Regions from separate parts of the Homo sapiens genome. Here region 2 is linked to region 1. A link means that fine-mapping ties the variant in region 1 to the expression of a gene that starts in the linked region. Tissue or cell type: cerebellum. Region 1 holds a variant in brackets; the other region holds the start of a gene. All regions are shown on one strand. Distances are between the middles of the regions.

Evidence for each region. PIP is the estimated chance that this variant, and not a neighbour inherited with it, causes the effect.
Region 2: PIP5K1C starts here. The variant in region 1 is fine-mapped to the expression of PIP5K1C in cerebellum (GTEx, PIP 0.95).

Annotation. Positions count from the first base shown.
Region 1 is chr19:3,555,219-3,557,718 of GRCh38, reverse strand. It overlaps MFSD12 (major facilitator superfamily domain containing 12), which reads left to right and starts at 133. Exons shown (of 10, transcript NM_174983.5): 1 at 133-613. The coding sequence starts at 316. RefSeq lists silencers at 1-247, 288-357, 538-707. The variant G/T (reference allele first, on the strand shown) is at 1,037.
Region 2 is chr19:3,698,914-3,701,540 of GRCh38, reverse strand. PIP5K1C (phosphatidylinositol-4-phosphate 5-kinase type 1 gamma) reads left to right here and starts at 1,073. Exons shown (of 18, transcript NM_012398.3): 1 at 1,073-1,244. The coding sequence starts at 1,151. RefSeq lists silencers at 825-1,314, 1,395-1,534 and an enhancer at 1,233-2,016.

The DNA.
Region 1 (2,500 bases):
GCCACGCCCCTCTCCTCTCTCCTTGGCGATTGGCTGCGGTTCCCCGGGGCGCGGCTCCGATTGGCTCAGGCACCGGAACCTCCCCGCCCTGCCCCGCCCGGCGCAGTCGCCCGGCTCTGGGGCCCGGCGGCTGCAGAGTCGAGCGTGGGGCGGACGCGGCGGACGTGGGTGAGGGCGCGGCCGTAAGAGAGCGGGACGCGGGGTGCCCGGCGCGTGGTGGGGGTCCCCGGCGCCTGCCCCCACGGCACCCAAGAAGGCCTGGCCAGGGTACCCTCCGCGGAGCCCGGGGGTGGGGGGCGCGGGCCCGGCGCCGCGATGGGCCCGGGACCCCCAGCGGCCGGAGCGGCGCCGTCCCCGCGGCCGCTGTCCCTGGTGGCGCGGCTGAGCTACGCCGTGGGCCACTTCCTCAACGACCTGTGCGCGTCCATGTGGTTCACCTACCTGCTGCTCTACCTGCACTCGGTGCGCGCCTACAGCTCCCGCGGCGCGGGGCTGCTGCTGCTGCTGGGCCAGGTGGCCGACGGGCTGTGCACACCGCTCGTGGGCTACGAGGCCGACCGCGCCGCCAGCTGCTGCGCCCGCTACGGCCCGCGCAAGGCCTGGCACCTGGTCGGTAAGCGTCCCGGCCCCGCCACCTGTCGGGCAGCCCCTCCGAGACTCCGCGACCCGGGCGCCTCCTCCCTCTGACTCACCACCCGCCGTCTGCCTGCCTCAGGATCGGAGTCTCCCCTCGGTCTGTCTGTCCCGTGGCCCGAGCTTCCCTGCACTGTCTGTCCACGGCCTTAACCTCCCCTATGTATCTGTCTGCCCTATGAGCTGAGTTTTCACCCCTCTGTCTGTCCCCTGGCCCGAACCTCCCCTGTCTGTCTGTCTGTGCCCATGGCCTGAGCTTCCTCCATCAGTCCCACCACCCAGCCCCCTCTCTCTGCCTGCCTGGGACCTAAGTCTCCCCTGTTTGTCTGCCCCATGAGCTGAGTTTTCACCCCTCTGGCTGTTCCGTGGCCTGAGCCTCCCCCGTCTGTCTGACTACCCAGTG[G/T]CCCCTCTGTGGTGTCACTCCTGAGCCTCCCCTGCCTGTCCCACCATCCAGCATCCCCCGTCTTTCTGCCCCATGGCCTGAGCCTCCCCCGTCTGACTGTGCTGTGCCTCCCCCATCTGTCTGACTGTGCAGTGCCTCCCCCATCTGTCCAACTGTGCAGGGCTTCTCTATCTGCCTGAGCCATGAGCCTCCCCCATCTGTCTGTTTAACTGCCCCGTATCCCCTCTGTCTGTCCCTTGGTCCAGCCTCCCCTGTCTGCCTCAGAGCTGCTGTCTGACCTGCGGGGCCCTCACCATCTGACTACATGACTTTCTAGTGGGAATGCCTTTGTTTGTCTGAGCCCCCGGGCCACCCTGAACCCTCTGGAGGGTTGGTGGTGACTGCTCAGCGCCTCCTTTGTCAGTCTGTCTAGCCTGAGCTCGTCTATTAGGGTGACCAACTGGGACAGCTATGGCTGAGGGACAGTCAGGCCCCCTAGAGCCTCCTCTCTCTCTGTGTGTTCTGCCAGGGCAACCTGGTGCGTCAGCAGTTTGAGGGTGCTGCTCCGGGAGTTGAGAGTTGGGAGCCGCCTGGGTGGGACTGGAGGGTCAGGGGTCTCTGCCCTGTTCTTGCATTGCCTCTATCTGTCTGGCCAGGGTCAGGGACCCCCTAGGTCTGGGGGAGCTGCCCTGATTAGAGAGGGCTGTTGGGAGGGCAGGAGGCTGGCGTCATGGGCTGGGTCACCCTGCCCCAGTGCCCATCGATAAGACTGCAGGGCTGCCTCCCAGCGGCCCTCCTCTCCCCTCCCGGACCCTGGGCCTGAAGATTAGCCGGCCTCCTTCCCTGCTCTTCTTGCCCTCACAGAAGTGCCGGCTGCGTCCTGGCATTTGGGACACATGTGGCATTTCAGCAGGCAGGGCCAGGAATCCTGCTCAGTTCTTGGAATTCCAGGTGGCAGGAGGGGCAGGCGGGTGCCTCCTCACCCTTGGGAACAATGACTGGGATGGGTGGTTGGACCCAGGATCTGGGTGATGACATTTTTTGCAAGAGGCAGTGGATCTCCAGTGGTCTGAGGGTGGCAGGCTCCGCAGCAGGCACAGCTTGGGGACTGGAGTTTCATGTTTCCTATGTCCAGGCTATTCCTGGGGTACCTGAGGCGGCGGCAGACAGGGAGGGGACCGGCTGTCCCTTCCTTTGTGGTTACGTTGGGATTGGTTGCTGAGCGGAGCCCAGGGCCCCAAATGCCTCTTTGATCATAATAGTTGGATAAGCTCTTTGACAGTCGCGTAAGATAATTTCTGGGCGGGCCGGGCACGGTGGCTCACCCCTGTCATCCCAGCACTTTGGGAGGCCTCCTCACCTGAGGTCAGGAGTTTGAGACCAACCTGGCCAACATGGCAAAACCCCGTCTCTACTAAAGTACAAAAATTAGCCGAGCGTGGTGGCGCACGCCTGTAATCCCAGCTACTTGGGAGGCTGAGGTGG
Region 2 (2,627 bases), 140 kb before region 1:
ATCAATGTTATTGGCATGTAGTGTGTATATCCATGTTATTGGCATGTAGTGTGTATATCAATGTTATTGACATGTAGTGTGTGTATCAATGTTAGTTACATGTATTGTGTAGATCAATGTTATTGGTATTCATTGTGTATAGCAATGTGATTGGCATGTATTGCATATAGCAATGCTATTTGTATGTTTTATGTAGATCCATGTCAATGATATAGTATAGATTCATGTTATTGGCATGTATTGTGTATATCCATGTTATTGGCATGTATTGTGCATATCCGTGTTATTGGCATGTATTGTGTATATCCATGTTATTGGCATGCATTGGGTAACTCCATGTTATTGGCATGTGCTGTGTAGGTCCATGTGTGGTTTTTTTTGGGACAGAGTCTCACTCTGTGGCCCAGGCTGGAGGGCAATGGTGCGATCTCAGCTCACTGCAACCTCTCCCTCCTGGGTTCCAGCGATTCTCCTGCCTCAGCCTCCCGAGTAGCCGCGATTACAGGCATGTGCCACCACGCCCAGCTATTTTTTGTATTTTTAGTAGAGACAGGATTTCACCATGTTGGTCAGGATGGTCTTGAACTCCTGACCTCAGGTGATCCGCCCTCTTCGGCCTCCCAAAGTGCCGGGAATATAGGCGTGAGTCACCGCGCCCGGCCAGATCCATGTTATTGTCATGCGCTGTGCAGGTCCCTGTTATTGGCATGTGCTGTTTAGATCCATGTTATTGGCATGTGCTGTGTACATCCATATTATTGGCACGTGCTGTATAGATCCATATTATTGTCATGTGTTGTGTAGATCCATGTTATTGGTATGTGTTGTGCACAGCAATGTTATTGATACGTATCGTGCCTGTCAATCTTACTGACCTAATACGATGGAATGGCGAGCCTGGCTCTGTACTCCCACCCCTGGGCGCGAGGGGGCACTCGAGGCGCTCCTGGCTGCGGGTCGCAAGCAGGCCCCGCCCCCGAGCCCCGATTGGCCGCGCGCCGTCCGCGGCGTCGCACGCACGCAGGCCCCGCCCCGTCCGCCCCGCGCCGGCCCGGCGCGCCCTCCCTTGGCCGGCGGCGCTTGTTGTTCGGCGGCGGCGGTCGCAGCTCGGGTCCCCCTCGGGCGCCCCCGCCGCCGTCCGCGCGCGGCCATGGAGCTGGAGGTACCGGACGAGGCGGAGAGCGCTGAGGCGGGGGCCGTGCCCTCGGAGGCGGCGTGGGCGGCAGAGAGCGGGGCGGCGGCAGGTAACGGCCCGGCCTCCCGGGGCTGCGGCCCGCTGGGCTCGTCCGAGCGCCGAGAGTCGCGGGGCTGCGGGGCCGGGGCGGGGGCTGCACGGTCGCTGCGGGGGCGCCGCCGGTTCCAGGAGCCTGGGGCGGGGCAGTCCCCTGGAGCCGCGGGGAGGACGGGGCTGAAGCCGCGCCGGGAAGCGGGAGGCCTGCGAGGGGCTACCTCCCACCGCTCCCGGGCCGGGGGCGACTCGGCGTGGGCGCCGCTGGGGATCCCCGTTCTGCCTGACCCGCTCCCAGGGGCTGCCCGTCGTGTGAGTGGCGGCTGCTTGGGTGGAGGCGGGGGTCTCTGAGGCCGTGCGTGCCCACCTCCTGATGTCACCTCCCTTTCTGTAAGTCCCCAGACCTGAGTCCGGGTGCGCGACCTTTCCTCACCTTCCTGGGCCTCAGTTTACCTCCCTGCTAAAATGAGGGGAGGAAAAGGGTTACATCTCAAGATGCCTCCACCGCCCCGGCTGTGCACACAGGGTGCCCTGTCGCCCCCTTTTCCTCTCCCCGAGCCTTCCCCCAGGACACACTGGTGGGGCTGCGGGCTGGGCGGGGGGCACGGCTGTCTCATGCCCCCTTTAGCTGCTTCCTGGACCTCCAGCCGGGTAGGTGGCGGCAGCTGGGCCTTCCCTTCTGTGGGGACGGTGTGCAGAGCCCAGAGGAAGGGAACAGTTCCTTCTCAGTCGAGGTCACAAGCTCCCAAATCGGAAGTTTCCGGATTCACAAAATCCTCTGCTCCTCCCAGGCAGCCAGCAGCAGCGTCTCTGTAGACACCCACACGGGCATCCGTCCTCCTTCTCCCCCCAGGCCTCCCGAAGCTTCCTTGGTTGGCAGGCGGGCAAGCGGGCGGGCGGGCGATGCGTGCTGCCTGGGAGTTGGGGAGATGTCTGGAGAGAGAGAGAGTGTGGAAGTCATCAAGTCCCCCCCCCACCCCCCGCCTTGAAAGACACTCGTGGCTTCCCTCCCGGCGGCCATCTGGAACCGCTTGGTAGGTGACCCGGTTCCTTCCCCAGAGCCAGTGGCCTCGCCCCTTTCTTTGCGGGCAGCCGGTGTCCTGGCCTGGCCAGCAAGAGACATGGTGGAGGAACCCAGGCAGGGCACCAGGCCCCAGCCCGGGTTCCTTTCTTGGGCCCCCCAACTTCCGCTGTCAGCCCTCTGACCCCAGCTGGTCAGAGACAAAGTAGCCCAGGACTCGCTGACCAAAAGAAAACCACACCGCGACCATTCATCTTATCAGGGGCTCTGGGAGCACCGGGGACAGATAAAGTTGCCAGCTCCAGACTGAGCATGGTGGTGGGGTGGGAGAGCGGGGGAGTGGGGGGGTGGGGGTGGGGGGCCGGGGAGGGCTGGAAG